Linked DNA regions of Homo sapiens: all the other regions are linked to region 1. Evidence: fine-mapped expression QTL. A gene starts in region 1. Each other region holds a variant in brackets. All regions are shown on one strand. Distances are from middle to middle. Region 1 holds the start of RELL1 (RELT like 1). Region 2 holds the start of LOC105374406 (a long non-coding RNA gene). Region 3 overlaps RELL1 (RELT like 1). Region 4 overlaps RELL1 (RELT like 1).

The links.
Region 2: its variant is fine-mapped to the expression of RELL1 in whole blood (TOPMed, PIP above 0.99).
Region 3: its variant is fine-mapped to the expression of RELL1 in whole blood (TOPMed, PIP above 0.99).
Region 4: its variant is fine-mapped to the expression of RELL1 in caudate (GTEx, PIP above 0.99).

Annotation. Positions count from the first base shown.
Region 1 is chr4:37,684,179-37,689,446 of GRCh38, reverse strand. It overlaps RELL1 (RELT like 1), which reads left to right and starts at 3,071. Exons shown (of 7, transcript NM_001085400.2): 1 at 3,071-3,247. The coding sequence starts at 3,160. RefSeq lists silencers at 2,373-2,682, 2,863-3,532.
Region 2 is chr4:37,759,428-37,764,695 of GRCh38, reverse strand. It overlaps LOC105374406 (a long non-coding RNA gene), which reads right to left and starts at 3,649. Exons shown (of 3, transcript XR_001741505.2): 1 at 3,425-3,649; 2 at 2,170-2,292; 3 at 871-1,928. The variant C/T (reference allele first, on the strand shown) is at 2,273.
Region 3 is chr4:37,614,687-37,619,954 of GRCh38, reverse strand. All of the region lies in intron 6 of RELL1 (RELT like 1), which reads left to right. Among named protein-coding and RNA genes, the nearest start is that of RELL1, 69 kb to the left of the region's middle. The variant T/C (reference allele first, on the strand shown) is at 2,639.
Region 4 is chr4:37,661,628-37,666,895 of GRCh38, reverse strand. The region is part of intron 1 of RELL1 (RELT like 1); the gene reads left to right. Among named protein-coding and RNA genes, the nearest start is that of RELL1, 22 kb to the left of the region's middle. RefSeq lists enhancers at 1-345, 1-827 and a silencer at 2,995-3,289. The variant G/A (reference allele first, on the strand shown) is at 3,238.

The sequences.
Region 1 (5,268 bases):
ATGATTCCCTAAATATAAAATCATTGTGAGGAATTGATGAAAGAATACAAAAAGAGTTCCCACCATAGGATTGGGCTAAATCTAAGGGCAGAATGAGGATTATTGTTTTTAATTAATGACAGTTATTCTTAAGAATTATTAAAACTCTACTTTTGTTTCTGAAAAAATGGAAATACAACTTAGTTTTAAGATTTCCATTTTATGTCCTCAGAAGAAATATGACATTCCCTTCATAATAGAGAATAGAAGTTCCATTACATTGGGGTTCTTACTTTTAAAATAAAACAGTGGATTTTTAGATATACATATGTAGAAGCTATTTAAATTGTATGAATAAATCTGTAGGGTTAAGGATATGGAAAATAATTTAAGCTTGATTTTCTTTCTTTCCTCTCTCCTTCCCTTCTTCACTTTCCTCCGTCCCTCCCCCTCTCTTCCTCCTACCCTTCCTTCATTCCTTTAACAAGACATACAAATGCATGTATACGGGGTACGTGAAAGTAAGACATTTATAGAGAGTGTGTCAAGCAGGTGTTATGGAAAGTTTAGGAAGAGAAATTTCAGAGCCCTGGGTTTCAACCCTGGCTCATAGTAGATATGTCAGGCAGATCACTTAACCATCTCTCATCTGTAAAACAAAGGGCCTGGTAGATAATGGGTAAGGCTTAAGTACTAGATTTTTATATTTGAAGAGCCATAACAGATATACAATTCAAATGTGTTGTTAAAAATGATCCCGTCTTTCTTTTTTTTTTTTCTTTTTTTCTTTTGAGACGGAGTCTCGCTCTGTTGCCCAGGCTGCAGTGCAGTGGCACAATCTCGGCTCACTGCAAGTTCCGCCTCCCGGGTTCACGCCATTCTCCTGCCTCAGCCTCCCGAGTAGCTGGGACTACAGGCGCCCGCCACCACGCCTGGCTACTTTTTTGTATTTTTAGTACAGATGGGGTTTCACCGTGTTAGCCAGGATGGTCTACGATCTCCTGACCTCGTGATCTGCCTGCTTCGGCCTCCCAAAGTGCTGGGATTACAGGCTTGAGCTACTGCGCCCAGCCAAAAACGATCCCATCTTTTTAATACTAAGTCCAATCTGTGGGAAAAGAGTGAAACATGATTCAATTTTGAAATGACATTTTACATTTTGATTAGATTTCTTGATTCAAGCATTTTGTTACATTCTAACTTACAAAACCAGAGCTGGCTTTATAAGTGTGTGACCTGTGCAACTGTGTGTTTAGGAGGGCTCCACAATCGATTTAATGTTGTGTTGTTGCCATCTTGAAATTCTTAACGATTTTTGAACAGAAGGCCCTGCCTTTTCATTTTGCATTGTGCCCTGCAAATTTTATAGCTGGTTCTGGCTACAACTTCTAATTTATAGTTTAATTTCTAGGTCCGGGATTCTCTCCTGTTTTAGTTAGAAATCCACATGGATCGCTTTCCTCCGCACACATTCTCAATGTTTATGTTGATATAAAACTAGCAAAGGCTGCCTGCTAAGACTGCCAGACTGTAGGATGCGCTGCCAACTGAGCGCAGGACGCGCAGTGCCCTCCTTGGGCTTCAAAGGGCAGGGGCTCCATCCTTCAGCCTCAGCCATCTGTACTGTAGTGGCCTGAGCTTCTGTCACTGGCAATTCCCACATCAATGCAATGTTTGTAATAATAGTCCAGCAGACTGCGTGGAGGACTCGGTGAGAGAATAAATAGTCCTCTGAAAACTAGAGGTTATCAGTCACCTCAAGGATGAGACCCATCCTGTGAAAACCCACAGCCTCCATGCACCCCCTCTTCTTGCTGGTGTTGAGTATTTGCTCAAGTCCTGCCCTAATTTCCTTCAAGCAAATGCTTGATGGCCCAGTAACAACAGTCTCTACAGGGCAGTAAAAAGGAACTATTCAGAGAGAGCCTCTGAGTCCTATTAATGCTTGTGAAGATGATTCAACTTCAGAAAACACTTCTGACCTCTTAGCGTGTGCTGTCTGTCCTCCATCCAGGCGCTGAGGGCACAGCAGCGAGCAAACACAATGACAATGAGATAATTACAATTTATCATGGTGGCCCAGACATCGTGGGTTTACTCCCTGGCCTCTAATAGTCACCTCGCAGAGCTGATGTGAGGATGTGAGGAGATAATAAGCGTCTGGGCATTGAAAGACCTACTTTGCGGGAGTATGCGCAAGGTGCAATACAAGCACACGATTAAAAAAAAAAGGCAAGTTGTTCCTGAAAATGCATAGAGGTATTTTCCCCAATAGGAGCAGCTTAAATGCAAACAAACAGAGGAAGAAATTTAAGTTATCTTTTCTGCTAATTTCCAAACAACAGAACGTGACATCCAGCACAGCATCACTCCCTAGATCTGCAACCGAGGGGAATGCTAGTGGATAGACATGCCAACAGCGAAAAAAGCCTGTGCTCACTCCAGTGCTGGCCGCTTCTGACTGTCCAGTGCTTCTCGGGGCGCGCTCCCTCTTTCTCTTCCCACGCCCGCCTAGTCCCAGCGACCGAGGGAGGTTGCACCCGGGCGACCCTCCCCCCGCCCCGGGCTCCCGCGTAATCCCGGCCCGGCTTGGAAAGGAAGCGGGCCTGGCAAGTAGAGGCACGGCCGGGCCACGGTGGGCAGGGCGCAAGGGCGGGGCTATAGCCTAACTGCGCCGCCAAGGCTGCTGCTGGGTTTGGAAAGGAAGCGGGAGAGGAGGGGTCGGGCTGAGCTGTGGGTGGGGAAAAGGGCGGGGCCATGGATGGGCCACGTGCCTTCTTAGGTGGAGTCCGGGGCTCGGTAGGGAGAGGCGGGGCCAAGCTGAGGTGGGTGGAGAAAGAGGGCGTGTCCATGGCCTAGCTACGCCGCTGAGGCTGCTGCGGGGTTTGGAAAGGAAGCGGGAATGGCAGGGAGAGGCGGGATCAGGCTGAGGTGGGCGGGGAGTCGGGGGCGGAGCCATGAGTGGACCTCGTGCCGGCTTAGGTGGAGCCCGGGGCGCGCGGGGAGAGGCGGGACCGAGCCGAGGTGGGTGTGGCGTGGGGCGGGGCAATGGCGGGGCGGGGTTCGCCGCTCCCTGGGGCCCAGCCCAGCCACTCGATCAGCCCGCCGGCTCCGGAGCGGCTCTGCCTTCCCGAGCGCGGGACGCGGCGCCCTGGGGGAGGAGGGCGAAGCGACGCGGCGATGGCTCCGCGGGCACTCCCGGGGTCCGCCGTCCTAGCCGCTGCTGTCTTCGTGGGAGGCGCCGTGAGTTCGCCGCTGGTGGCTCCGGGTGAGTGTCCGGTCGTAGCCGGGGCGCCGGGTGCTGAGCCCGGTCCCGGGAGCGCGGAAGGAAGCGAGGGGTCGGGACGGCAGCCCCGCGGCGTCCTGCTTTCTGGCACAGCCGCGGGATCCCGGCACTGAACAACTGGCTGTCCCGCGGCGGTCCGGGCAGGGCGCGGTGCGTGGCAACGGCTCCCGTCCCTCCCCTCCCGCGGGCCCCGCTCCCGCCTTCCCTCCCTGGGGCCTCCTCCGAGGATCTGTGTTCCCCAGCGCTGGGCAGTGCGGGGCGTAGGGACCAGGCCTTCTTCGGGGGCGCTTCCTCCACGGCCGCTCGCCTCGGAACCCCGCGGACCCGTTTCCCGCCGCCCTTGTCCTCAAAGGCGCCGCGAGCGGAAGATCGTGACACAGAGCACCGGGTGCGCTGTCGGCGCCTCCTTCTCCCTTTTAAATACCTTAAAATATCCTAAAACCTGGAGGACTTTGAATCTCTTTCCACGTTTCCATTTATTTGGGTGGTTGATGGATTCTTGTAACAGGTCAAGGAGTCCACATTTCTTCCCATATATCCTGTATAAATCAGGCTCGGAAAAAGGGAAGGCGCGTTGGTAAACTTACATTTTTTTCTTCTTTTTGTTGATTCCTGTCGTCACGAAAGGAACCTTGTGTGGTCAGGGCAGGAAGCCACCAACAGAGATGCTAAAGTGTCACCAACGATGAAGCAGTTTTTAATTGAAATCAATCTTAAGAGGAGGTGTAAGTTTTATGGAAGTCCTATGTCACATCCTTGCTTTTATAATTACAGACACTAGGGATTCCTTACCACCGCTTCCCCTCTTAATTGCCACCTAACAGCTGCAGTTAAAAAAAAAACATACTTACTTGGCCATTTGGGGTTACTACAGCTGGGAATCTGACGTCAGCAAGCTCTTCCAAGCTTGATTTCAGCGGTGGTTCCTCCTCAGGCCCAAATAATAAGCAACTGGAAGCCTTTCAACAGTGACTGTCTCCTCCATAAACATCCATAAACTCTTCCTCCTGAGAACATTTCAGTCGCTTACAACTTTTACACTGACTTAGCAGTTTGGCCTTCACTTTTTCATAGAAACCAGAGCAGGTTGGAAGGGAAGGAGATGGATAATATTGTCTCCTGAGTCTTTTTAGCAGGCCCGTATTTCCGTTAGCCATCCACCTGGGGAAATGGCAGCTAGTGACATGTTTTACTGGATGGGACAATTTTTTTTTTCTTTTCCTTATTTTGATACAGGGGCTCATTTTGTCACCCAGACTGGAGTGCAGTGGCACAACCTCGGCTCACTGCAACCTCCAGCTCTCTGGTTCAAGTGATTCTCCTGCCTCAGCCTTCTGAGCAGCTGGGATTACAGGCATGTGCCACCATGCCCGGCTAATTTTTGTATTTTTAGTAGAGATGGGGTTTTGCCATATTGGCCAGGCTGGTCTCGAACTCCCGACCTCAAGTGATCCTCCTGCCTCGGCCTCCCAAAGTGCTGGTATTACAGGCATGAGCCACCATGCCCTGCTGGTTCATTTTGATTTTCATCCTGCGTTTGATTGCTGGGACACATAGGTGCATAATCAGGTTCCACTTGGATGTGAGGTTGGAGACATTCATTAGAGGGTTAGAGTCAGTTGCAACAGAATCTGGGGAAGAGTTTAATCTGGGAGTAAAATTATTAAAAATTCAGCACATGATGCATGTAATTAGCCATCATCAGCAGGAGAAATCCATCCCTAGAGTGGGTGTGTGTTTGGTTTGACCTCTGAGCAACACCCAGGTCTCAGGACTAGAATGTGACTGATGAAAGCTCTCATCTAATTGCATGACAGCCTTTTTTTTTTTTTGATGAAAATTAATGCGGAAGAAGAAACAGGTGTCTAAAAAGGAAAGGATACAGAGCACAAATTTGCCAGTATCTTGAGGCGTGTGTAAAGAGAAGATGCTCTGACCAGCCAACATCTGATCCCCTTGCAACCAAAGATGGTGTTAATGTTTGTACCTTGAGCATAGGGAAG
Region 2 (5,268 bases), 75 kb before region 1:
CAGGCGTGAGCCACCGCGCCCGGCCAGAAATCACATTTAATCAAGTCTTTATTTTACCATCTGCTTAATTTTTCTCTTAAAAACCTCTGACACATAAACATTTGTGATGGGGGTAGTAGGTGATGCTGCTGTCTGTATTTCTTAGAACACCTGGAGGCCAGAGTTCCTACCCTAATTTCTCAGTGTCACACTAGCAGTTGCATGACACAGAGGTGGACCCATCACCCCCCTCTGCAGCTGGCACTCCTACCCAGGCACAATGTGACTCAGTGTGACCCTGTTCAGGTTGGAGCTATCTTTGGAGACACTGTCCCAGAAACAAATAAAACAATATAGGATGCTACATTGTCCTAGATGTATGAGGAAATTTGTATTCACTAACACATTGCTTATACATTTATTCATTTATTCAGCAAATGTTGATTGTCTACTCGCTCTGTTTTACTCAGTGTATTTGTCAGGATAAAGGTTAGACAGCTATAAGAAAGAAATTTAAAAATGCAGTGGCTTAAGAAAGAAAGAAGCCTTTGCTCTTTCCAATCACAGTCCAGGAAGTCCACGTTGGCAGAGCACCTTGGCTACACCTGTTCATTCAGGATCCTGTTGCCTCTCTATCGCATAGAGTATGTCTTTGCAATGCTTGTGTTTTGTGTAAGTGTTTAAAGGCCGCCTCACTACTCCTTTCCACATAAGAGGATCTGTATTCTCCAACACACTTTGAGAGTGTTTACACTTCGAAAGTGTTTACATTTGGACAGTGTTTACACTTCACTTTGACAAATCAGAAACATGTTAACTTAAGAAATGTCATTAAAATGTTCCCATGAAATTTATTTTTGAATATGTTGTCTTTTAGAAAAGTTTTTAGGCTGGGTGCAGTGGCTCATGACTGTAATCCTAGCACTTTGGGAGACCAAGGTGGGTGGATCACCTGAGCTCAGGAGTTCGAGACCAGCCTGGGCAACATGGCAAAACCCTGTCTCTACAAAAAATACAAAAATTAGCCAGGCAGGGTGGCATGCACCTGTAGTCCCACCTACTCTGGAGGCTGAGGTAGGAGGATCACTTGAGCCTGGGAGGCAGAGGTTGCAGTGAGCTGAGATCACATCAGTGCACTCCAACCTGGGTGACAGAGTGAGATCCTGAGATCCTGTGATCCTGTCTCAAAAAAAAAAAAAAAGAAACAAAGAAAAGTTTTTTTAATGTTTATACTCAAAAAGCAAGCAGTGTAAACAAGTTGTCTGCATTGGAAAGAAAGCCTGTGGAGGCACCAATGTGTATCTAAGCTAATACTGTAACCCCCAGTTCTGCTTGCTGCTGTAACCCCCAGTTCTCTAAGGAAAGGTTTTGCATAGAAGTCCAGACTGCTCTGCTCTACTGTTACTGAGCACGGAGCATTGATCTCATAAATCTTTTTGAAGAATGCTGACCTGGCTTTTACAGTTTTTGACATGCAGTATGGGGGAGAGTCCAACCTCCTTCTATGGACAAGAGAAAATAATCTTGCTAGCTGAGGTCATAGACACACTGCCTGGGGTCAGCAGCAAAGGAGGCAGAGAAAGACTGACCAGCCAGATCTCTCCCGCTATCGTCTCTCTCCCTACTTGCCTTGTTAGAGGAAGTCAATGTTGCATTAACGGTGTGTGTGTGTGTGTGTGATCAGAAGCTTTTTTGATAAGCCTATGCTTTGACATCCTAAACCTCAGAGTTTGACCTTAGGAAGGGGTTCCCAATACTTAGAATAAACCAGCCCTCTTCTGTATGCTCAAAACTACATCAAAAGCTTCCAGAAAGTGGAAAAGCAATTTCTTTTGAACAAAAGAGTTGGATGTGGCACACTCACCCTGTATTAATGAGAATGTGGTCACATGGCCATACCAAGCTGCAAGGGATGCTGGGAAATGTAGTTTCTGGCTGGCAGTCCTGTGCTTAAGTGAAACATGAGAGAAAGTAAGAAAAGATTGTGGTAGAGTAATTCCTCACTATGAGGTGGATTTTCAGTGCTCCACAGGAGTTCATTCTCATTTTCTCCCACCCTTTTCCAGAGATGTATTATATTTTAAAAGTTTCATTAAGCACAGTGAGACAACTCAACAGAGTAGAATCTCATGCCTTTCCCCCACTCCCCAACCCTCGCTCCCTGAAAGAGAGGATTGCCCCATCACTTACAGGGCAAGTGCAATCTTGCCATTCACTTCTTTCTTCCTTAGAGCACTGATTCATTGTTGCCATGAATTAAACATTGTTGCCATGCATTTCAAACACTCAGGTT[C/T]GCCCCAGGGGCTGCATATCCTACAAATGTTGAAAATGAACCCACCATCACGTGATTAGACATCAGGATACCATTAATTCTGCCACACATGTGACAAATCCTACCCAGCCCCAGACACCTCTATGCCAAACCAGGAGGGAACTATCTCAAGGTAATAATTAGACATACATCCTTCCCTGCTGTGATCAGGGCTTTGTGCTTGATGCTTTATGGACATTTTCTTTCATCTCTGAAGCTGTGTTTTCAGGCAGTTTCCTGGGATCACCTCCCAAATAAACTACTTGAAGCAACTCTTTGTATTTGACTTTACTTGAGAAGGAACCCAAATTATGATAGTCAGCTTAGATTAATCAAGATTTACTCCCCACTTCCACTTCCTAGAGCCAGGAAGAAATCTGTGTAACATGTGGGTGCCCAATATTACAGAACATTAGGGCTCTGATAGCAAGGAATAAGGGGAATGATTATGGGATAGGCACCTAGCAGTTCCCTCCAGTGTTTTTAGCAAACTCTATCTTTCTATATCCAAATGAATGGCTGGGCGCAGTGGCTCACACCTGTAATCCCAACACTTTGGGAGGCCAAGGAGGGCGGATCACCTGAGATCAGGAGTTCCAGCCTGGCAACATGGCAAAACCCTGTCTCTACTAGAAATGCAAAAATTAGCCAGGCCCGCACCTGTAATTCCAGCTACTTGAGAGGCTGAGGCAGGAGAATTGCTTTAACGCAGAAGGTGGAGGTTGCAGTGAGCTGAGATAGCGCCACTGCACTCCAGCCTGGGTGACAGAGTGAGAATCTGTCTCACAAACAAAACAAAAATTAATGAGTAGCTATCTGTCCCCACACTCTTGAACATGTATCTTACATTTTACAATTGTCTTGGGATTGCAATTGTCCTGTCTAGAAGGCTAAGGCTGCTAGAATGTCCACTTAGGTTTGCTCTGCTCAGGGTGAATTCAGAGAGCAGGCTCTGAATGGGCCCAGTACTCCCATTCATGTGGGGAGCCTTCTGTTTGGCAGCCCTGAGTGTCGTGTGACCAGACTAGGTGGCCCACTGGACCTGTTTAAGTCTGGATGTGGCAGGGTGAGCAGCCACATGCCCCTGTCCTGGGTCACTTAGCTCTCTGGGGAAGTCTCTTGCTCAGTACTTACCATGTTCCATTGTCATCATCTGCTTTTCAGGCTGCTTTTGAGATCCTGGGGCCAGGGCTGCCGTTAACCCAACTAGGAGCTTCACTCAATTTGTAATGCTCTTCCGCCTCTGGTTAGCGTCAGCTTCATAGACACATCTTGGCTTGTAGAATTTGTGCAATGTAGCCAGGGTCAGGGCCAAGGTTTATGAGCAGAACTTGGGCTAAATTTCAAGCCTCATCCTCCTTTGCCCTCTGCAATGGATGAGGCAATTTTGTGCAGTGCTCAAGCTGGGCAACCACACACAACAGCCTTGTCAGGGGCTATGTCTCCATCTCTGGCTCACAATTGCATAGCATAGTGCCTGAACATGACCTTGAGTAATTTGCTTAACCTCTTTGAGTCTTATCTCATTGCCTGTAATACAGTGGTTTTAATAAGACATTACCTCATGGGATTTTTATGAGAGTAAAATGGTCAGAACATGAAGAACAACGGCCCTGTGGTCAGATTCCCTTAGGTCCAAATTCTGGCTCTGTCACTCAGAGGTATGGCTTTGGGCACGTTCCTAAGTCCTCTGAACCTCAGTGTTCTCAACTGGGGATGATAATAGTGTTTACCTCATGGTGTTATTGGGGAGATTAAATAAGAATACGTTTAGAATACATATTTTAGAATCTGGCATGTATCAAATATTCATTCAGGTTTAGCTATTATTACATTTAGCTTTTATGTACAGCTCCTAGAGTAGTTCCTGACATACAGTAACTGATCAAAAAATGGTAACTATCAGGTGATACATATGATCAAATACAAATGATACATAAATGGATGTGGAACAAACTGAAGCAGGATGTTCAGTCCTGAGAGAGCAGACATGTCTTTGTCCACATGACTCCTTTTGGTAACTGTTCTCCTCCCCCACTCCATGAGCTCCTGGAGTAACTCTTACACCTCTGCCTCAGGAGTAACCTTGGGCCCCACACTAGCTGATCTTAGTACTCCATCTCTGAGCACAGCAATTTGCTCAGGCGTGGGCAAGGACCCAAGAAGACCCCTTGGAGTCACCCTTGAATAATGATGCATGTCTGCTGGAGAAGACAGGGCCTCTTTCTCTGAAATTGTGGATAATAGTGCTTGAGGCTCAGGGTGTCACCTAACTGCCAGTGGACAATTTGCCCACCTTGTGGAGAGAGGCTGCGTTACCCACCACTGGAGAAAAAGCAGAGCTGAGCAATGGAGAAGAGAGGGCCTTAATGCCATTGTTTTAATCCTAGATCTAGCCATACCTGAAGCTGTCCCTGCACTTGGACTTCCCAGCCAGATGATCCTCTTATTTCCACTTTTGAGTAAAGTTATTTCAAATTAGCCTTCTTTCATTGGCAGTGGAAAGGACCATCTTACTCAAGGGAATGTCTGATGAATAGTAGTAATAATACTTACAAGATTGGATAACATTTATTGAGGCTTACTAGATGCTAGGCACTCTTCTAAGTGCTTTGCATGTATTAACTTATTTAGACTTTGTAACTGTTTTAGGTAGGCATGTTACTCCTATTTTACAGATTAGAAAACTGAGTTTCATAAAGATTTCTTGGCTAATGATTACAGTCAGGATTCAAACATATTATTTATTTATTTATTATTATTATTATTTTTTTGAGACAGGGTCTCACTCTGTTACCCGTGCTGGAGTGCAGTGGTGCAATTTCGGTTGACTGCAACCTCGACCTCCCGGGTTCATGTGATCCTCCTACCCCAGCCCCCCAAGTAGCTGGGACTACAGACACACACCACTACACCTGGCTAATTTTTGTATCTTTTGTAGAGAGGAGGTTTTGCCATGTTGCCCAGGCTGGTCTTGA
Region 3 (5,268 bases), 69 kb after region 1:
AATAAATCCAAACTGAGATCACTTTTTGCTTCTCTGGTGACAAAGATGAATGTTAACACTAGCATGACCATATAACTCACATCCAAAATGAGGAGGTAGCTCACACCTGTAATCCCAGTGCTTTGGGAGGCTGAGGTGGGAGGATGGCTCGAGGCCAGGAGTTTGAGACCAGCCTGGGCAACATAGTGAGATCCTGTCTCTGCAAATTAAAAATTAAAAAATTAGCTGGGCATGTGGCATACACCTGTAGTCCCAGCTACTTGGGAGGCTGAGGTGGAAGGATTTCTTGAGCTCAGTAGTTGGAGGCTGTAGTGAGTCAGGATCATGCCACTGCATTCCAGCCTGGGTGACAGAGAGAGACTCTGCAGAGAATAAAAGGGAACACTGTGAATAATTATTCTGGGTAAACATATATAAACCAAGACCTCCCAGGCAAACTGGTTCATGTGGTCACCTTGGTTAAAAGGGTGCAGGGGCTGGGTGCGGTGGCTCACGCCTGTAATCCCAGCACTTTGGGAGGCTGACGCAGGTGGATCACGAGGTCAGGAGTTCAAGACCACCCTGGCCAATATGGTGAAACCCCGACTCTACTAAAAATACAAAAATTAGCCAGGTGTGATGCCGCACGCCTGTAGTCCCAGCTACTCGGGAGGCTAAGGCAGGAGAATCGCTCGAACTTGGGAGGCGGAGGTTGCAGTGAGCCGAGATTGCGCCACTGCACTCCAGCCCGGGTGACAGAGCGAGGCTCCTTCTAAAAAAAAAAATGTGGTGCAGGGAGGTGGGTGCAGTGGCTCACGCCTGTGATCCCAGCACTTTGGGAGGCTGAGGCAGGTAGATCACCTGAGGTTGGGAATTCAAGACCAGCCTGACTAACATGGAGAAACCCCATCTCTATTAAAAATACAAAAATAGCTGGGGGTGGTGGCGCATGCCTGTAATCCCACCTACTCGGGATGCTGAGGCAGGAGAATCACTTGAACCCGGGAGGCGGAGGTTGCAGTGAGACGAGATCACACCATTGCACTCCAGCCTGGGCAACGAGAGCGAAACTCCGTCTCAAAAGAAAAGAAAAGAAAAGAAAAGAAAAACGACCAACCAACCAAACAAAAATCAAGAGGGTGCAGGGAGATGGACATTATCCCACACCAAAGCAGGAGGCTACAATGGTCTAGACCTTTGTGGTGGCAATCTGGAACTGTAAAAACTTAAATATGTACTCTTTGACCAAATTATTCCAATTAATAAATATCATGCATAAATGCAAAGATAATGTCCAAAGTTGTTCACTTTAGCATTATTTACATAGTAGCAAGTACCTGGAAGCATCTTTAAATACATCTATCAATGGGAGATTAAGTAAATGAATTGTGCCTTATGCATTTCATAATGGCCTGCAAATGCCAAAGATTGAAGTAGATGCTGGGTGTGATAGCTCATACCTGTAATCCCAGCAGTTCGGGAGGCTGAGGCTGGAGGACTGCTTGAAGCCAGAAGTTTGAGATCAGCCTGGGCAACATAGTGACCCTGTCTCTACTTAAAAAAATAAATAAATAAAAAAAAATAAAAAATTAGCTGAGTAGGGTGGCATGCACCTGTAGTCCCAGCTACATGGGAGGATAAAGTGGTAGCTTGAACTCCATGACTTAAGCCCAGGAGTTCGAGGTTCCAGCAAGCCATGATTGTGCCACTGTACTCCAGCCTGGGCAACAGAGTGAGACCCTGTCTCTTAAAAAAAAAGAAAAAAAGATTGATGTAGAGTTATATGTACAGACACAGAGCATCTACTGTATATTATTAGATGAAAAAAACAAGTTATAAAATATTCCAGTTGTGTTTAAAAATGATATGCAGCATGGCTCAGTTTTTCTTGCGTCGAAGCTGATTGTTTAAGCTTCCTCCCTGCATACACTAAGCTCCTTCAGGACTTGGGCAGTGCCTTTGGATGGTGTCTTCTCATCCTTTGCTGAGACTTTAGGTGGCATCTTGGCATCTTGTACATAGTTGGCCCTCAGTGATTCCTTAACAGGTGTGATAATATGGCATTCATCTCATCATTACAAGAGCCCTCTGCAAATTAGTCGAATTCTAGTTCCCAACTACTTTGAAATACATTTAAAAACAGATTCTGTAATTTTAAAATTGAGTTACTGATTTTTTGTTTTGTTTTGTTTTGAGACGGAGTCTCACTCTGTCACACAGGCTGGAGTACAGTGGTGCAATCTCGGCTCACTGCAGCCTCTGCTTCCCAGGTTCAAGCGATTCTATTGCCTCAGCCTCCCAAGTAGCTGGGACTACAGGCATGCGTCATCATGCCCAGCTAATTTTTGTATTTTTAGTAGAGACGTGGTTTCACCATGTTGGCCAGGCTGGTCTCGAACTCCTGACCTCAAGTGATCTGCCCACCTTGGCCTCCCAAAGTGCTGGGATTATAGGCATGAGCTACCATGCCTGGCCAAGTTACTGAAGTTTTTAATTAATATTTCAGTCTTTAAGTGATTTTGTCATACTTGTTTTCGCCCCCATTTCTGAGATGTATTTTTTGACCTCCGCTGACTTTATAGTGTTGTGTTTGCAGGGTTTACCCTTTGGAAGCGGATTTAATTCTTGCTGTTTTTAATCAGTTGAAAAACATTAGTAC[T/C]GGGTCTTACCTAAAAGCTTAAACCTTCATACGTGCATTAGAATCAATGAAGCACCTTATAGGAAAGCAGAGTCCTGGACTGCAACCCCGTAGACTCTGATTTAGTAGGTCTCAGGGAGAGGCCCAAGGAATCTGAAGTTTTTGGTAATATTTAAGCCGATTCTAAAGCAGGTTCTGCTGATCATTCTGGGAAACACTGATTTTAAAAGATTGCATGGATTAGCCTAGATTAGCATGAATCTATTGGGTTTGTTAAACAAGAGCCTTTATTAAAATAAGAAGGTATCCGTGTTAATTTATAAAATTTAACACACAATTTAGACCAGAGCAAGATTTAAAGGACTATAAGCACTGAATACTCTGTGATGTGATTCCATTAATCGATATCTGCCAAGATGCCGATCTACGCAGGCAGTACCATTGCAGGACCATGGTGTCACATGCACAGCCATCATAACCTGCAAGCGTGTAACTGCAGAATGGTCAGTAGAGCCTGGAACAAGATAAATCTCTAACTAAGAAGTGTGAGCCTTAAAGGAGCACAGATTATTAGTGATTGATCACTTAAATGTAGCTCCGGGACTTCAGTGTTAATATTGCTGTCATGTAGCTCTATAAACAACGTTCTCTATTTATTTTATTTAAAAGTGGTCAAGAGAATTATTAATCCGACTGTGTGGTTCCATAGCCTTGTCTTAGAATGAGATCAGAATTCAGTGTTGTGTAGGTGTATACTTTTGATCTTCCCAGGGACTGGGCCCCTTTAAAGTATAGGTTTTTAGCATCATTTAACTGTTCATGCAACCACAGTGATTTCCCCTGAGAGAGACCCTGGCAGCATTTCTAGTTTCTGCATTTCCTTTCTGTTGCCTGCCACACAGGTGGGGAGCAGAGAAGCGAGGGTACCAGAGGATTCCAGTGATGCTGTGGGTGTGTCCGGGGTGACTGGATAGCAGTGCAGCATGGAGGTAGCTTTGTGGTCTTCCAGGTCTTACTGCCTGGGATGGATTTCCTACTTTCCCGTTACTAATTGTGTGGCCTTTGGTAAATTATTGAACCTGGAAGCCTCAGTTTCCTCCTATGAAAATAGGAATCATTGACTTATGGAGTCATCGGGAAGATTGAGTTAATGACCCTAGAGTGCTTAGCATGACAGTACCTGGCACAGAGAAAGTGCTCTGCAAATGCCAGTGCTGTTATTATTAATCAGATAGACTTTTTCTTCCTTAACATCCTACACTTAGAGATTTTAGCATTTACTGTTCATTAATCCGCTTAGGCTCCTAGTTTCTTATAACATGTTTCTAATTTTTAAAGGGATCAATTTCTTTTTTTTTTCTAGAGAATCCTTTTTAACAAGGCATAGATATTTGTATGTATATCCTAATCAGAGACATATGGCAGCTTCCGTGGACCCATAGTATAATGAGAGGATTATGGCTTTATCTTTATAAGATTATGTCATAAGCAATAAACTCTAAAGAAAAAGACAACCTCTTCCTTTGTTCCAGATAAATCTTCTGGGCGGTTCTTAATTTTTATCCATCAGTCTTGTTTTATAAGCAAAATGGTTACACTTTGGGATTTCTGAATTCTGTTTTCCATGTAATGGAACTTCGCTTAATTTTTTCCAGCTTGAGTACTCACTTGTGTAAACTGTCATCACAAAATTTCTCCCGAAGAGAGATAGGCCAGGCTTGCTCAGTGTGGTGTGGTCCCATGTGATGGCAACTGGGAACAGTGAGTGGGTGGGTGTTTCCTCTCTCACCCACTCCTGTTAGCCTTTCTGGTGTCTCTGTGCCCACCCACACATGATTTCTGACTGCTGCAGGACAATATGGAAGGCACCTTGTAACACTTTTATTATTGTTCTGGGTTAAAGAAATACCTGGAAGGTCATAGTGTTGTGCCAGTAATGTGCTACCTTCTAATAAATGTGTGTTTGTAATTAGAGACCAGAACTGCAAGGGTTTTAATAAGATTAGCTTTCCCTTTTCTGCTTAGTTTCTGGTATTAGCAGTGAGGACTTTAAGCAGTGATTTGTATTTTTTACTTCCTCTCTCAAAGATATTACAGATAGTGCAGTTTTTATCAGCTGCAGAAGGCAGCTGTTGAAGAAAGCTAATGTGATTGTTGAGAGCAGAGAATTGGATGATGGTAATGACCAGAATAGTTAACCTTTCGGAGCATACTGATTGCTTTTCCTCGTATTAAGCGTTGTGCATAGGATCATCTCATGTCAAATCCCCAGTAACCCTAGGAGAGAATGCTACAGAAACAGCCACGGTTCCACGGCTGGGAGTAGGGGTCTGGATTTGAATCCAGGCCCCTCCTTTTTAGCTTAGCCTGTATTCTTGCATGCCCAGTTCTTAAAGCCGGTCAAATCTGTGCAAAACACTCAAAATGAGGAGTGTTTCTAGGTTGCAGTGAAAACTGTTACTGTGATGAAACATTAGTTTCTAGGCCTGACATCCCCCACCTTTGACGTTGTTATTTTCCTTGATGCAAAAATGTCTAGTTCTAAGGGAGCACATAAAGAGGAGACATAAAAACAGTGGAATACCATACCTGTTTTCTAGATAATGGCCTAGTTTAAGGTTTTGCCTGGAAAATTCCCTCTCATTTTTTCC
Region 4 (5,268 bases), 23 kb after region 1:
GCAGGAACATTGCCCGACCTAACCTGTGACTAATTGGAAAACCCTTCGTTTAGGACTTTTGTAGTTCTCTGTTTAGTCATTATCTGCTTCCTGTTCCTGGAAGGAAGAGAAACACTGGCTTGCATGTGGGGATGTGGGTGCCTGCCTGGCCTTGTGGTACCACCTGAGCAGTGCTGTGTGGTCGCTGCTCACTCACCCCCAGGGCTTATCTTTTCTGCACCCCACATTTAACACTGCCCCTTCCAGCCCAGCTCATGTGATTCCTTGTCCTTTTCTGGATGTTTGATTTTATATCCCCAGCTGAGCTGTGAGCTTGGTGAGGATAGCAACTGCTTTGCTCTTATTACCACAGATAATAATAATCACAGCAATAATGGCTAGCATTTATCAAGTCTTAACTTGGATAAACCCTAGTAATCTCATATAAGGCTTAGAAACTATTATTATTTTATGGATGAGGAAACTGAGGCACAGAGATGCTAATTGACCTTGCCTGGGGCTTCACAGCTAGGAAACAAATTGAACACAGTGCAGCCAAGAAAAAAGCCAGTTTCTGCTTTTGCTTCCATGCTTCATAGGGAGTAGTCTTGCTTCAGAGTTGGCCCTGCGTGCAACAGACCTTGGTTCAAATGTTGGCCCAGCCATTTCCCAGATGAGTGACTTCAGCTTCAATACTTTGTTCTTGATCATCTCCATTTCTAAGATGGGTTTAATATTAACACCTATCTCAGAGTTGTAGAGATAAGAAATGATAATGTAAGTAAAAATTCCAGTAAAGGTTAGTGGCTGTTAGCAGTTGGTGGTAAAGTAGTTGAGCATCCTAGAGGCCCTGGATCTGGAAATCATAAACCCCCAACACTCCACAGGGGCATCAGTCACCATCTCTCTTTCTCCCTCTGCCTGGTCGGGTGCTGGGCCAGTCTTCCTTTCTGACGCCCTTGCTTCCCTCCAGCCAGCTCAGCACCACCCATTTTTTCCCCATGTGATTAGTTTATGTCCTATTCTGCAGGGTAGAAATGACTTGGCTGGACTTCTAACCCTGACAGGTGCCAGTTGTGCCCAGAAACCAGGGATCTAGCTCCCCAAGGACTGGTTTCCTGCACCAGCTCTCTGTAAGCTTCAGGGAATTCACTGATTTCCTAAAGGAGCACCCCTTTGACCCCATTTCTTCCCGTTGCTACTGGAGACAGGCTGAGATGGCGTGTTTCCTCCTATTTGATGGTTTTTTTCTGGCCCTTGCTACTTAGACTTCCTCCCATAGTTTAAATAATTTCTAACCTAGTTCTTGGTTGGCCTCTTGCAAGGAATATACATGAACAGTTCTGTTAGGACTCGCAGCCACGTGGAAATTGGGCAGTAGCCTTTGGTGAGGTTGTGTAAGCTCGGATTTAGCGTCCCCTTATGGATCTGGCAGTTGGGGATGAATTGGAGTCCTGTGAAAATCCAGTTGAGAGCTAGTTCCCCAAGCTGGGTTTAGGAATGTGCTGCTATTTATAGCCTTTCTTTTGGATCTTTGCAAACTGGAAACTTCTGTTGATTTCGATGAACCCAGGAGCATGCTGGTATATTTACATCCTTCAGAAAGGACTTACCCAACAAGGGGGTGAAGCAGTGGGGTGTATCAGTTGTCCAGCTCTGAAAAGAATCTACTTATTTATGTTTGTAAAAACTGTTGGCATTTGGCAAATGGGGTGTAAGTACACTGGATATTCTGTTCTACCAAATAGGATCTTAACAAAACTGCTTATAAAGTTACTGTGAACTTGGGGACTTGATTGATTACCCAGGAGCCCTTCTGCAATGAGAGAATTTGCTTTCACATATAACATTGCTGCAGCAGATGTTTCAGGCACTCCTACTGTGTTGCAGGAACTGTGTTAGGGATTAGAGGTACAAACCTTCACTTCCCCACCTCCACTTAGGGAAAGAGGTGTTTGACTTCAGTCAGGGTTTTCCGGCGAGTTCTGTGTCCTGCTGGGATTCCTGCCTTTGACCGTGGTATGTCTGAGTGGTGCGCTGTTGTAGTGAGGTGGGTGGGGAAAATGTCCTCCTAAGCTTTGGTTCTTCTGCTTGGCTCATTTCTCTGCCTCGACCCAGTGATATCATGTAGGCCACTGATTTATTTACAGAATGATGATATTACCTAACTTCTTGGGATTAGGGATTTCAAATAAAAGAATGAATGTGAAAGTGCATTGAAAAGTGTGTTATTTGGGTGGGAACTTTTATATCTTGTACTGTGTGTCCCTATCTCATGTGTATGATTGAAAATTTTCTTTATTCCTCTCCTTTCTTTTTAAATATTTTTTCTGAAAGATTTTTAGATGCCATGTAATTAACATTGCTAGTACAAATTATGTTTGTGGCAACCACTGAATAACAGTTTTTGAGCAATAATGTGAACACATGCATCTGTGAATAAGGTGCTTTTCAATAGCTAGAGAAAGGTCTTTTACTTTTACCTTTATGATAGTTATAGAGGGAGATGAAGTAGTTATACATGAGTGATTTTTTTTTTTTTTTGAGATGGAGTCTCACTCTGTCACAGTGATGGGATCTCAGCTCACTGCAAGCCCTGCCTCCCAGGTTCAACCCGGGTTCAAGCAATTCTCCTGCCCCAGCCTCCCAAGCAGCTGGGACTACAGGCACGTGCCACCATGCCCAGCTAATTTTTGTATTTTTAGTAGAGACGGGGTTTCACCATGTTGGCCAGGATGGTCTTGATCTCTTGACCTTGTGATCCACCTGCCTCGGCCTCCCAAAGTGCTGGGATTACAGGCATGAGCCACTGCGCCCGGTCGATCTTTTGTTTTTTGCAGTTAAAATTAATATTGGGAAATTTTGTGCTATGAAGGTTTTTAAAAAATGAAGCCACTACAAATTTCATTCACCTACAGCTGACTTCAGTCTTTTTTTTATGAAGATGATTTTTACACCAGAAGAAGATATGTGCAAGTTCCAGTGTTAATCGTATATCATAGGGTCATTGGAGAGAGGCAGCTTCTTAGTGTTTAAGGGCCTTGGGTGGGTGAATGTTGACCTGTATGCAGCCCAGCTGTGTGGTTCATTGGTGACAGTTTAACAAAGCCACCTAAATGCATGTGTCACTAGATAAAACCCAAGGCCACCGCCACTTACAGACACTGTTAAGCAACATGGCTAAGAGTGTGGGCCCCGGGATTCCATTGTCTGGGTTGGATCCTGTCCTCCTACACACCGAGGCTTGTTATTGAACCC[G/A]TGTGCCTCATTTTCCTCATCTGCGAATGGGGGTAATGAGAGATGCTTCCTTACAGATGCTGCGAGGGAAGAATGAGATTGCCCAGGAAGCATCCAGAACACTGCCTGACACCACTAACACCCCGTGTGAATGCTGCGATTGACAATTAAAGTAGCAACTCATTCTTTATGACGTACCACCTTTCAGAAATAATCTGAAGCAAATATTAGATTTCTGAAGCCCTGTTGCTTTAAGGTCACTTCAAACAAATGACTTCTTCAGAATTCCATTTCTTTCTTGAGTGGACATAATGTGTAATTTTAAAGGTTCGCAAGAGCCATTAGTCAGAGGCTCTCTCCATTCCTGTTGTGCAGCCACCCAGCCCCTTCCCAGGAGACAGACGGTGCTATCAGTAAATAAAGACTTTGGAAAAGTCCCCAAATGGACAGCACCAAAAATAGCAAAAGGAGGAGGGGCAGCGAAAGAGGGAGGGAGGGGCTGGAGAACAGGAAAAGAAGATGGGGAGAGAGTCAGCAGGGAGCCCTCCCAGTCCTTGAGCCCCACGGGTATTGCTTTTCCTCACGCCCCTCTCTGAGGACCCCACTGATGTGTGCAGCCATCAGTGAGGGTCTGTGGGAATCTCCTCAGTCTTCTGTCTTAGAGGCACAGTTGGTGGCTTCCTGGCCTGTATCCCAAAGCAAATAACTGGCAAGCTGACCTTGCTCCAGTCTGGGGTGAGGCCAGGTCAGATGAGCCTTCTGTTGTATCCTGAATGCAAACCATTGTTTGAGATACTCTGGAAGAGTCCAGAAGTTGAGGTCCTTGGCCTCTCAAGACACCGGGATCCTAGAGTTAATTTCCTCCCAAGACGGAGCTTTGGGCGAGGTGGGAGGTGGGGGAAGATGGGGGGATGGGGGTGGCTGTAGCTGTCATCTGTGTTGGAGTTCTGTGGCTTTAAGAAATAACTTCAAATGGTAAACCCGAGACAGTGTGGAGTAGGCTAGGGACTTTATCTGACTCTGCAAAGTTATTTTTCTCTCTTCAGTTCAAATTGAAGCCAGGGATGGTAATATTTAGATTTCATCTTTTTTTTTTTTTTTAAGATGTTTCTTTATATTGACATCACTCAAGTTTCAGTCCTTTGTTCTGGTAGCAACCCGGGGTTCAGGAATGCTCTGAGTGCCCCAGCCTCCTGCCTGTCAAGAGTGTCCTGTTCCCTTTTTGTCCAGCCAAATTCAGTTATTCTGTTGAGGCTCAGCATAAAGTCCTTTTTCTTTCTGGATCATCTTTGTTACTTCCCTTCTCAATCTATGTGGTATTTAAGAAGAAAGCCCCAGCTTAAGGATAGGTTATGCCCCAAATACTACTTTTGAGTAAGTAGATTGTAAGTTGAAATGCATTTTCCCATTAAAAATGATAATTATCATTAGTAATGATAATTTTTCAAGGCATCCATTAGCCAAATGCATCTGAAAATAAGGATTTATAGCTAGGCTTTGCTGACTTCTGCACGTTTTATTGGGGAAGTTGTCTGAGCTTCCATCTGTTCCCAGAGTGGTCTTTGCAACCCAGAATCAGACTCCAGGGCTCATGACTCATGGTAGCATTTCAGGAATTTTAACAAAATAAAAGTAATTGAGGGACTGTATGCAGCTGGCGTTGGGTGGGGTTTTGTTTCATGGGTGGGTGGACTTTGGCAGGTGGGTGCCATCTGGGTGTCCCCTCCCTGCCCAGTCATAGCTGCCTTTTCGGGGAAAGGTGGGGTTGTAGCAGCTGTTTGTCTAGGAATTGTCTGGAAGCTGGTAGCTGCCTCAAGTTTCACTACAGAGTTCAGCACTTATTTATATACTGACTTACAGTGTTCTCCAATTCTGTTTAAGCCCATTTGTTCTCTCTACAACATATTCTTGAGCTTGGGCAAATGCTGTGTCTTTATGATTGCCACTGTGGGTAGATGGTCTTAGAGACTGTGACTTTAGTTATCTCTGTAACCAAATAGGAATAATTTGGGGATGATTTTATTTTGTAGAATTTGCTTTGGTTTCTCTTCT